Linked DNA regions of Homo sapiens: region 1 is linked to region 2. The links come from fine-mapping of genetic effects on plasma protein levels. Region 2 holds a variant in brackets. A gene starts in the other region. All regions are shown on their reverse strands.

Region 1 (5,364 bases), not on the chromosome of region 2:
AGTTGGGTACTAGTTCAGGGAGGATATAAATAAAATGAGAATGTTTTGAGTGTAGCACCTGTTCTCCCCAGGCAGCATCTATAGTCAGAGGCCTGAGGAAATCCTCTTGAGTTTGCTCTTCTTTGGAACTTAGAATTCTGATCCTAATGGCTGAGGCAGTCTTGACCATCTTTTAGCCATAATCCCATAGTATTCATTGCTAAATGCTGTAGGAAGAAGGATTATTACCAGGAATTCTTCATGGCATCTCTAAAACGTTGCCACTGACGAGTCCCAAAACTAACATTATGCTCCATGCATTTTTTTTCTGCATCTTCCCATTGTTATTAGTTGCTCAGCTGGAGCAGAACATTTGGGGAACATTTCGTGAGGATGTTTTAGACCTACCAAACATTACCGAGAATGGGACATTGCTAGACCCACTATGAGCAGCATGGAGAAGATAGCAAAGGCTGGATCCAATAGATGTTTTCATCATTTGCCTTGGGATGGGTGGGGGTAGAGGACAAAGATGAGCATTGGGAAATGGAGGTTTACCAAGAAAGTAGCTTGCTGATACTGGATCTCCAGTCTCTTTGGCCAGAACAGTCTAGAAAAGAAGATAGCAGGATGTCAGATAACTATGAGCACTGCCGAAAATAAGAAATGGAATATTTAGACCTTAATGAAGCCTTATAACTGATTCAAGGGGGACAGAGAAAGTATATTCAAATGTAAAGGTAAATATTAGGAATTACTTTCGGAATCTAACATGAGATGTGATTGGAAGAAACACTAATGACCTGCAAGTCTCTAACATATGAAACTATGAACTAGCTCTTGCACACGTTTATGTAAGCAGTTCCCAGGTCGCACATAGATCATCTGTGTCAGCATTCATGATTTACACCAGGGTGGAGAGCAGTCCACCCTAAAATGCATCTTGGTGAAAACTTTCACAAAGTAATGGAGCTGCTCTGCTAACTTCTACGACTTGACTGCCCTCAGGGTCAGAAGAAAGAAATAGCTGAAATAGGAGACAGGAGACAGTGAGGACAATTCTTTACGGTCAAAGAATCTTGAAGAGACTGCCCCTGTGTCACATGGAGACATTCACTGACTACAAATCATTGGTTGCAGCTTTACTTCCCATGTCACAAGTCATTTGGGATCTGAATTCTGAAGGAAAAGTTAGCTACAGGGAATGAATGTTGAGGCTACACCTTATGTAGCACTTGATCAGGATAAGCACAGCCTGTGTGATTAGATACTTGGTGTTTCTGGGTTAGAACCAAAAGACTTTGTACTTCCTCTCTTGGAAGGAGTTACTTATTTGGGGTGACTTGTCTGGAAACAAAGGAGGGGTGTTTACAAGAGATGGTTTGCAATGCAGACTAAAGCCAAGAAAAATTTGAGTGTGATGGAATAGGAAAACCAAACCAACAGCCCCCAACCCCACCACACAATCTGCTTGGCCAAGTCCAAGTTTGTAGCTCCCTACACAAGAGTGTGAGACTGGCAGGTATCTCTTCCTGTTGTCTGTGCCTCCACTGAGCTGCCAAGTACTAGATTCTAGGGTTTGCATGAGCAGTTTTGTGTTTGCATAGGCATTTCTCAAAGCCACTGCATGGCAGGTATTTGAAGAGGAGCCAGGCAGGTCACACTAGAAAGAAGCAGCTGAGAGGGCATATGGGGCACTGTATAGAAAAAGATCTTGTGTGAAGTGTGGGCCCAGGGACTACACTCTGTTAAAACAGCAAAACTATGTGCAGTAAATGGAATCCCGCAGGCCTGGCTGCTTTTCTTCCCAGACAGCTCTGCCCGCAGAGCGGGCAGCGTCAGGAATTCGTTGTTATGCTTTCTTCCCTCACTGACCTTTGCTGGGTGGTTGAGCTGTGCTGGGATGTTTGAAGCATTTTTTTTTTTTTTTTTTTTTTTTTTTTTTGGCTGTTGGACAGAAAAGCAAGAACAGGTGCGTGCCTTTCTGTAAGGGAGCGGCGGCCGCCAGAGGGCGCAGAGGTGCCTTTTGACCGAATGGCGCGGGAAGGGGGGCGTAAAATTCAATTCACAGCGACCAAGATCTAGTCTCGGGAATTAAAGGATCAGAGCGCGCCTGAGCCTTTCGCTGCGGGGATGGGAGGCACTGAAGATTTGGGGGATAAAGAAGAAACGGAGGGACTGTCCTGTCTTCCTTCCCGCAGCCGCCCCTCCTCCCCAGTCAGCATCAGGCCCGTACGCCGCTCATTTCAGGGGCTAAGCTGGGAGCAGCACGCACGTTGCCTCAGTTTCCTGCTCAGCTCCCGGGACTACCTTGTGCCAACCTTCCCTGCTCGGAGTATGAGGCACAGGCCGGGGTAATCCTCCAGCCTGGGCTGGGGTCTGCTGAACTCGCGGAGCGCTTTTTCCTGCCCGCGGGTGAAGATTCCCCGCTGGCGCGTCCCGGGGCGCCCTGGGCTCCCGCGCGACCTCTGCCGTCGCCCTCGCTGCCGCGCTCCGGTGGCCGCGCAGCCCCCGCCTCCAGGAAAGCCACAGATTCCCGCTGTGCCAGGGAGCCCGCGCGGCCGGCGCTCCGGCCTCTCCCTGCAGCTGGAAAACGCTGCTCCCCTCTTCCTCCTTCAGGAAGACCGCCCTGATTGGGCCGGGGATGCGGCACCCCCAAGTTTGGAGCCAGAGCCCAGGAGCGTTTACATGTCAGGTGTTACGGGTGGTTCTGACTTCGGATAGTCCCCAAATTTCCCACCCTTCCTGGTCACCCTTCCTATCCCACCCCGGCGGAAGGGAAGGTTACGGCTCAGGATAGTTCTGGAGCCTCCTCTTCCCCCTCTACTCGTACCTGGCTGGCTCGTGGGGCATCAGAGCTTACCTCACCCCTCCCTGCGTCCAGACCTGGAGGAGGCCGCAGGGTCCCGCCGTCCGCGCGCTGGGGGCGCCCCCGGGCGGCGGACCCCGCGCGCCCCGCCCGGGAGGACGGCGACCTCTCCGCCCCCTCGAATGCCCCGCCCCGCTGTCGCCGTCGGTCCCCACCCCGCCACCGGCACACAGGCGCGCAGACTTGGGCTGGAGCCGCCCTGGGTGTCAGCGGCTCGGCTCCCGCGCACGCTCCGGCCGTCGCGCAGCCTCGGCACCTGCAGGTCCGTGCGTCCCGCGGCTGGCGCCCCTGACTCCGTCCCGGCCAGGGAGGGCCATGATTTCCCTCCCGGGGCCCCTGGTGACCAACTTGCTGCGGTTTTTGTTCCTGGGGCTGAGTGCCCTCGGTGAGTGAAACCCGGACCTGGAGGGGACTTGGGATGCGGGATGGGGTGAGTTCGACCCTGAGGGAGAACTTTGGCCACTGCTGCGGAACTGGGTCCCACGACTCGCCCTCCTCCCCTGACCTCCTAATCCCACTCCAGGGCATCACTGGCTGGCGCTGACTTCTCGCTTTGTCGGGGACAGCCCCCAGTTTGGGTGTGGGGGCGGATGGCGGGGGGAGGTAAGGGCATCTCTCGGAAGACCTGGATACCTCTGGGGTGAGTTATCGGAACCATTCCTCACCCTGTCCACTCCCCACCCCCCACCCAGCAGAGCCGGATGAGCTGAGCCGCTAGATGAGACACTGGCTAAAGAGCTTAAGGACTTAACTCTAGCCCCCTCTCATCCCCGACCCCACATACAAGCTGATGAGGAAGATCCCCCGGGGAAATACCCCTGGTCCCCAGGCTTGACACACGCACTTCGTGTCAATTCCCCAGCGCAGATGCTCTCTCTTGCCCCCTCCTGCTTCCTGCCCTGGGAATCAAGGGAGGTGCCCCAAAAGGACGACCGTGAGGTCATTTGGGACACAGGAAATGGGGGAGGGGTTCAAACGCACAGAGAAACAGAATTGTGACCACCCCACCCCCCCAAGGCCCACCACCCTTATTGGTTTCCAGAGCCAAAGGGAAGAGGGGAAATTGGGAGGAGGGTGGCCAAGGGTCAGAGAGGAAGGGAACCTCCTTGGAGCAAGTGTTTGGGAAGTGTTGTAGGCCTCCAGGGGCGCTGGCTTCAGCTGAAGCTGGGGTGGCTCAGAACTCCATCTGGGAGAGGACCCGGCAGGACTAGGCCCTTTTAAACTATTTCACTTGCTGTCCCTCAGCTTTCTTGCCATCTCCCTTCAAGGATCTCGAATGGGAGTGAAGGGTGGGTTTAGCTATATTGACTTTAACTCATTTCTCAGGTTGGAGGATGTCAGGACAAGTAAGGCCTGGGAAGCTGTAGAGTGAAATTCTACAATGATGGGGACAGAGATGAGGATCACCAGTGTCCCCTTTAGCATGTTCTGTGCCCCACAGGTGTCGGGGCATGCAATATTATAGTCCTTGGACAAAATGAGTCTCAAGTACAGCCCCCCAGGCCACACCAAGGCCACAAGTAGCCTTCTGTCCCTCTGGGCTTGGTGGGCCTGCTCCAGGATCCCTCAGACTTCTCATCCCGCCTTTCCCAACTTCAACTTCAGCTCTGTTCCTTCTGCATTCCACCCCAACTCTATCCCCCTTCCTTGTGGGGGGTGGGGGCTGGGGGAATCTCTGAAGCCAGGGAGGACAGTTCAAGTTGACTGCCTGAGTGTCCCAGGCTTCACCTGCTGCTCATCTGCAACCCTTTGTCCTACCCCAGCTTTGAGCCTCAGTTTGTCAGACTGAAGACCTGGACTCAAAAGTTCCAATCGGTCCCCCTGGGGGGTTGCCCAGTTCCCGCCAGCCACTCGAGGGTTAAATGGCACTGGTGACCCCGGTGCAACGTGCAGGCGCCCGGCTCCGCTCTTCTGGGCTCTGGAGGAGGCTCTCCGGCTCAGTAGGCTCCTCGGCGGCTCAGTGCTGCTGCCCCTGGGGCGTGAGAAGCCCGCGGGGGGAGTTTCTCAGAGAAAGAGGGAGACTAAAAATAGCCCCGGGGAGCGGGCCCATTTCGCTCTCCTTCGGCCCCTGCCGGCTCCCTCACTCTGGCCTCGGAGAGGGCTGTGGGCCGGAAGGGTCCCTTTCTTGGGCTGTCCCAGTGTCCTTCGATCAGACCCAACCAGACTCCTTTTCTCTCCCAGTGGCTCCGTGGACCCTGGGACCGAAAAAAACGGACCAGTTGGTGACTTCCGAGCCAGCAGACACCCAGGAGGGAGAGCAGAAAAGCCTCAGGCCCTCTTCTGTTCCTAGTTTCTGACAGGGCGAAGGGCAAGGAGCATGTGCCCAGACCCCAGTGTGTCCGTTACTATCTCTTTTAACTCTCCTCTACCTTCTGGAAAGTGGAATTATAAATGTGGGACCTGGGGAGGTCGCTGGTGGTCCACAAGGTGAAGGAAGGGCGCGCCCCTTCTGGGCCCCAGGCAGTTTCCCGGCGGAAACCCTTTCTGGCCGCCGGGTGTGTGTCGTAGAAAGGCTG
Region 2 (5,347 bases):
CTAGGGCAAACTCCACCCTAGTTCGAATTCCCAGTTCACTAACACCAGCCCAGAGATCATGTCCTTATCAAAAGACGGAAAGAGGGAAAGTTCAAACCAACCTGGGAAGGACCTTATCTAATACTCCTAACCACTGAGATAGCAATCCAAAGGCCGAAAAAGGAGGGACCCACCCCTTGCAAAGTCATGGACTGTCACTCCAGGACCAACACCCTCCAAACCAATGTTCAAAAGGGTTTAGTCTGTCTTTTTTTTTAATTCCTTTAGTTACCAAAGAACATCTTATCATCAATGTAACCCGATCACCCTGCCCTCAAACGATCACATTCAATGCTTGCCTTGTCATGCCCTGTGGAGACCTTTAGAGTCAAAAACAGCTAGCTTCTTCAGAAAAGTACCTCTGCCCCTCCACCCGCTTCAGACAAATCAGAAACCCTTGTGATGGACAACCACGAGCCTTCCAGGGGTTATGTTATAATTGGGGAGATGTTATCTAGACCACCCAGTATCAGGGCTGGACCTCCTCAGAGGGTTGCACCGCCCTAAAACCTTACATCCACCTTACCAAAGGAGTCACACCCTCAAATTGCCAAAACCACCAGTTTTCCCAAAAGTCAGAAGCCCTACGGGACAGCCCCCAAGGGCCATTCGACTTCCAGCTCTTGATGCCAATTTTACCTCATGTCTCTCATGGCAAGGGGAAAATCTGACGTTCCTCGGAAACCTGATGGGATGTACTGGGCCTAAACCTTTCCAAGAGCTAACCAGTCAGTCAGCCCTAATCCATCCCCAAGCAGATGTACAGTGGTATTGTGGGGGACCAATATTGAGTACTCTGCCAAACAATTGGAGCAGCATTTGCACTCCGATCCAATTGGCCATCCCTTTCACCTTGGCATTTCAACAACCAGACAGGAAGCAGGTAACCCAAAGGAAAAGAGAAACCCCTCACGGGTCCTTTGACCTCTCATATTTACATAGACAGTATCGGGGTTGCGCTGGGGGGTACAAAATGAATTCAAAGCTCGAAACCAAATAGCCACCAGGTTTGAGTCTGTATTATTCTGGTGGTCCACTATAAACAAAAATGTAGACTGGATACATTATATATACTATAATCAACAGTGATTCATCAATTACACCAGAGATGCCATAAAAAGAATAGCTCAACAATTAGGCCCTACCAGCCAGATGGCCTGGGAAAACAGGATAGCCCTTGACATGATATTGGCCAAAAAAAGGCGGAGTCTGTGTCATGATTGGGGTCCAATGTTGCACTTTTATCCCCAATAACACAGCCCTGGACAGGACAATCACAAAAGCCTTACAAGCCTTACCACCCTAGCAAATGAATTAGCCGAGAACTCTGGAATAGATGACCCCTTTGCAGGTGTCATGGAGAAATGGTTTGGAAAATGGAAGGGACTCATGACCTAAATATTTACCTCCCTTGCAACAGTTACAGGTGTACTCATCCTTGTGGGCTGCTGTATCATACCTTGTATTCGTGGGTTAACCCAAAGGCTCATAGAAGCAGCTCTCACAAAAACCTCCCCCACCTCTCCCCATCCATAGTCAGATAAGCTCTTGCTCCTAGATGATAAAGAAGAACAACAAAGCCAACTCCTGTTAAATAAATTTGAAGGGGAAGAACTATAAAACAGAAGAGGGGAAATTGTTGGGACAACTAAGTTCCTCTTCAAAGATTCAACTTCCTGGCCATAACTTGGAAACAAATCCTACCCCTACAACCTTTTCAAAAATCACACCTTTACCTTATTTGGGAAGGTTTAAGCATTAGCCTGTCGGGGTCAGCTTAGATTATGCGGCCCAACCCCAGCCAATAGGGGAAGGACACAGAAACAGAAACTGCATTAGGGATAAAAACCCCTTCCCTCCTTTGTTCAGTGTGCTCTTGGGATTGTAACAGGCACAGGCAGCACCCTTCTACAGAAGTAAAAGTGACTTGCTGAGAAATTTTCTAAGTGCGGGTTTCTTTTCGCTACACCGAGCACTTGTTTCCAACACATGCAAACCAGAATGGAGGTCTCCCTGGACCTGGGTTTGGGCCACAAGCTTGCAAGACCTTGGGCAAGACTGTTCCCTCTTCTGAACCAAGTCCTTCCCTGGCCCAGCCGCTTGTGAGTAACACATCAGTTTCATGCTTACACCTCCTGGTCTTGTGAGTAACACATCGGTTTCATGCTTACACCTCCTGGTCTGACCGGGCTCTCCTTTGCAGAGCCTTTTATTCCTTCCCTTCCTCTGAACACTGGCTGGCTGCTTTCAGGGAAGAAGTTCAAGGCAGTGGCAGGGAGCTCCTTGCACATCGCCATGACAAATGTTTTATGGAAACAGTGAGCTGATGGGACGAGGGGTCGGGGCTAGAAAGTCAGCCAAAAGGTGTGAGAACCCGGACTAGCCCCCAGCCCTGAACATGGCAGGCCACTGTGCCATGGTAGGGGAGTGAAAGTTTCCCTCTGCTCCTCTTAGGGTTCCAGCTGGGGCTCCTTACAAAAGAGAAAAACAGTTCATTAATGCATGTAGTGCACCTCACTGAAGAAGCTTCAACAAAAAGCAACTCAGAACAGTGACTTAGAACTGGGTTATGGAGCAACTTCAACAAAGAATAATCAACGTGTGGGGAAATGACAGGACCCAGGAGAGCGGTTTTAGGCTTCCAAGTTTGGGAAACCGGCAAGGTGAGTATTGGGAGGAAACTAAGGCGGAAGTTTCATTCACAGAGCCCTAGGGTGCCTTCTTTCCTCTGGCTGATGCGTCTCTCTCCTATAATTTCCATCCTGCCTCAGACAGCAGAGGGACAGGGCAGAGAGAGATTTCCCTGCTTCTGCTGCATCTTAGTTGCCTTCAACTCAAGATAATTTCTGAGGCTCATTTTGGAGTGACATATTCTGGTGTCCTTCACGGTACAGGGCACAGCCTCAGAGGACCAGATCCACAGCTGATCACTGAGCTCTTCCATGTGCCAGGCCCGTCCAGGGAGAACACTCAGCCCCACAAACAGGGCAGGTGGCACCAGGATGCTGGGCGGCAGCCTAACCCTCAGCTCATGGGTGGGTGGAGTGGAGAGCACCCTCCCCATGTGGGGCTCCCTGGTCGTGGACCTGGAGACCACCAAGGCTCTGCAGTCTCAGAAGTGGCCTGTTGGAATGGGGTCTGCAGGCAGGGAAGCCTTGGGCCAGAGTCCCTCAGGGGCAGGAACACAGCCCCCAGGCTTGTCCCACTTGTCCCTCTGAATAGTTAAGGGCTGCCCACAGGGAACTTCCCTCCCTCCCTCCCTTCCTCCCTTCCTTCCTGCCTCCCTCCCTCCCTTCTTTCCCCTTTTCTTCTTTCATCCTCCCCTTTCTTCCTTCCTTACTGTGGTAAAATACACATAACATGAAATTTACCATCTCAACTATTTAAACACGCACAGTTCCATGGTGTTGAGTTCACTCACATCGTTGTACAGCCATCACCAGCATCCATCTACAACACTCTTTTCATCTTCCCAGACTGAAACTCAACACCGTTCACAGCTCCCCATTCCCGCCTTCCCCAGGCGCCCACCATTCTCCTCTCTATTTCTACGAATTTGATGACTCCAGTCCCTCAGATATGTGGAATTGTGGCTGGGCGCGGTGGTTCACATCTGTAATCCCAGCACTTTCAGAGGCCAAGGCAGGCAAATCACCTTAGGTCAGGAGTTCTAGAACAGCCTGGCCAACATGGTGAAACCCAGTCTCTACTAAAAATACAAAAATAAGCCGGGCATGGTGGCACACATCTGTGGTGCCAGCTACTCAGGAGGCTGAGGCGGGAGAATCGCTTGAACCTGGGAGGCAGAGGTTGCAGTGAGCTGAGATCTCACCACTGCACTCCAGCCTGGGAGAGAGAGCGAGACTCTGCCAAAAAAAAAAAAAAAAAGTTAATAGAATCGCATGGCATTTTTCCTTGTTGGACTGGATTTTACTTAGCATAAGGCATCAAGGCTCACCCACGCTGTAGCAGGTGTCAGCGTCTCCTCCCTTTCTAGGGCTGAGAAACATTCCATCTAGAGACAGACTCACTCCGTGCAGCCATGACGCCTTGGTGAACACCACGGCTGCTTCCAGCTTTTGGCTATGGTGAGTTCCGTTGCTAGGAACACAGATGTGCACATGTCTCTTCCAGACC[C/T]CCTTTCAATTCCTTGGGTGTATACACAAAAGCAGGATTGCCAGCTCATACGGTAATAATATTTTTATTTTTATTTTTATTTTTTGAGAAGGAGTCTTGCTATGTTGCCCAGGCTGGAGTGCAGTGGTGCGATTTTGGTTCACTGCAACCTCCACCTCCCAAGTTCAAGCGATTCTCCTGCCTCAGCGTCCCAAGTAGCTGGGGTTACAGACTCGAGCCACCACGACCGGCTAATTTTTGTATTTTTAGTGGAGATGGAGGATTCACCATGTTGGCCAGGCTGGTCTCGAACTTCTGACCTCAAGTGATCCGCCCGCCTCGGCCTCTGAAAGTGCTAGGATTGTAGGCATGAGCCACCGCGCCCGGCCTCGTACGGTAATTCTGTGTGATGTTTAGGGACACGTCTCGGAGCTGGCGAACTGGACTTGGGGTGGGAGGGAAAGGAAGCATTAAAGATGCCCCCAGCTTTCACGGAGATGAGAACGGTGCCCCGGGAGGGCGGGACGGGATCAGGGTCCTGTGAACGGGGTATCAGTGTAAACTCCTCTGAGAGATATCAGGAAAAGCAGGAAGAAGCCTCTGGGACCCTTCGGGAGGTAACTCCTCTTCGCAGCGGGGCGCGCTCTCCCAGTCCCTGCAGCCGCCGCCGCCCTCTCCTGAGCTTCCTCGAGCGGACGCCAGGCAAGGGCGGGGGTCGTAGCGGGGCGGAGCGGGGCTTTGTCCACGGACCGCGCGAAGAGGCCTCAGGGCCCGGCGCGGGCGCCGGAGGGGGACTCGCTCGCAGGGGGAACGCGAAGGTTCCTCAGTCTGCGGGACGCAGAGCTCCGTGGGGCCGCGAGCCGGGGCCGGGGAAGCGACTCTGCCTAGGGGGACGTCGCGGGCGCGGGGCACAGGGTCCTGCGGGGCTGGAGGGCTACAGGCTGCGGCGCGCGCGAGCCGGAAGGCCGGGGATCGTGGGTTCTGGGGCCGCAGCTTCACGGGTTCGTCTCCCCCGCCTCCCCGGGGGAGCAGGATGTCAGGGGGTCGCCCCCGCCCGGGAGACAGGGTGTCAAGGGGCCCCCGGGGACGGGGCTTCAGGGGCACCCGGAGCCGCTCGGCCCCAGGGCGGGATGCGGGGACAGGGCCCCAAGGTACCAGGGCCACGAGGGGCGCGCGGGTCCCTTGGGGATGC

Which allele goes with the higher level. Alleles are on the strand shown, and positions count from the first base shown. The strength of an association depends on the size of the effect and on how common the allele is.
For the plasma level of the protein whose gene starts at base 3,028 in region 1, T is the high allele of the variant in region 2 and C is the other (strong association).

Evidence for each region. PIP is the chance, under the fine-mapping model, that this variant and not a neighbour inherited with it causes the effect. Protein levels are from antibody-based Olink assays in UK Biobank. Linkage for the fine-mapping came from a reference panel and not from the study's own genotypes, which makes the PIPs less certain.
Region 1: ESAM starts here. The variant in region 2 is fine-mapped to the plasma level of the ESAM protein (UK Biobank, PIP above 0.99).

The regions. Positions count from the first base shown.
Region 1 is chr11:124,759,954-124,765,317 of GRCh38, reverse strand. ESAM (endothelial cell adhesion molecule) reads left to right here and starts at 3,028. Exons shown (of 7, transcript NM_138961.3): 1 at 3,028-3,233. The coding sequence starts at 3,164. It overlaps ESAM-AS1 (ESAM antisense RNA 1), which reads right to left. Exons shown (of 2, transcript NR_120577.1): 2 at 1-589. RefSeq lists silencers at 2,240-2,289, 2,830-3,239 and an enhancer at 2,970-3,473.
Region 2 is chr9:133,275,387-133,280,733 of GRCh38, reverse strand. No RefSeq gene overlaps it. Among named protein-coding and RNA genes, the nearest start is that of SURF6, 58 kb to the left of the region's middle. RefSeq lists enhancers at 1,834-1,856, 1,778-1,930, 1,727-2,296, promoters at 4,681-4,892, 4,681-5,212, a cis regulatory region at 5,290-5,334 and a silencer at 5,179-5,347. The variant C/T (reference allele first, on the strand shown) is at 4,177.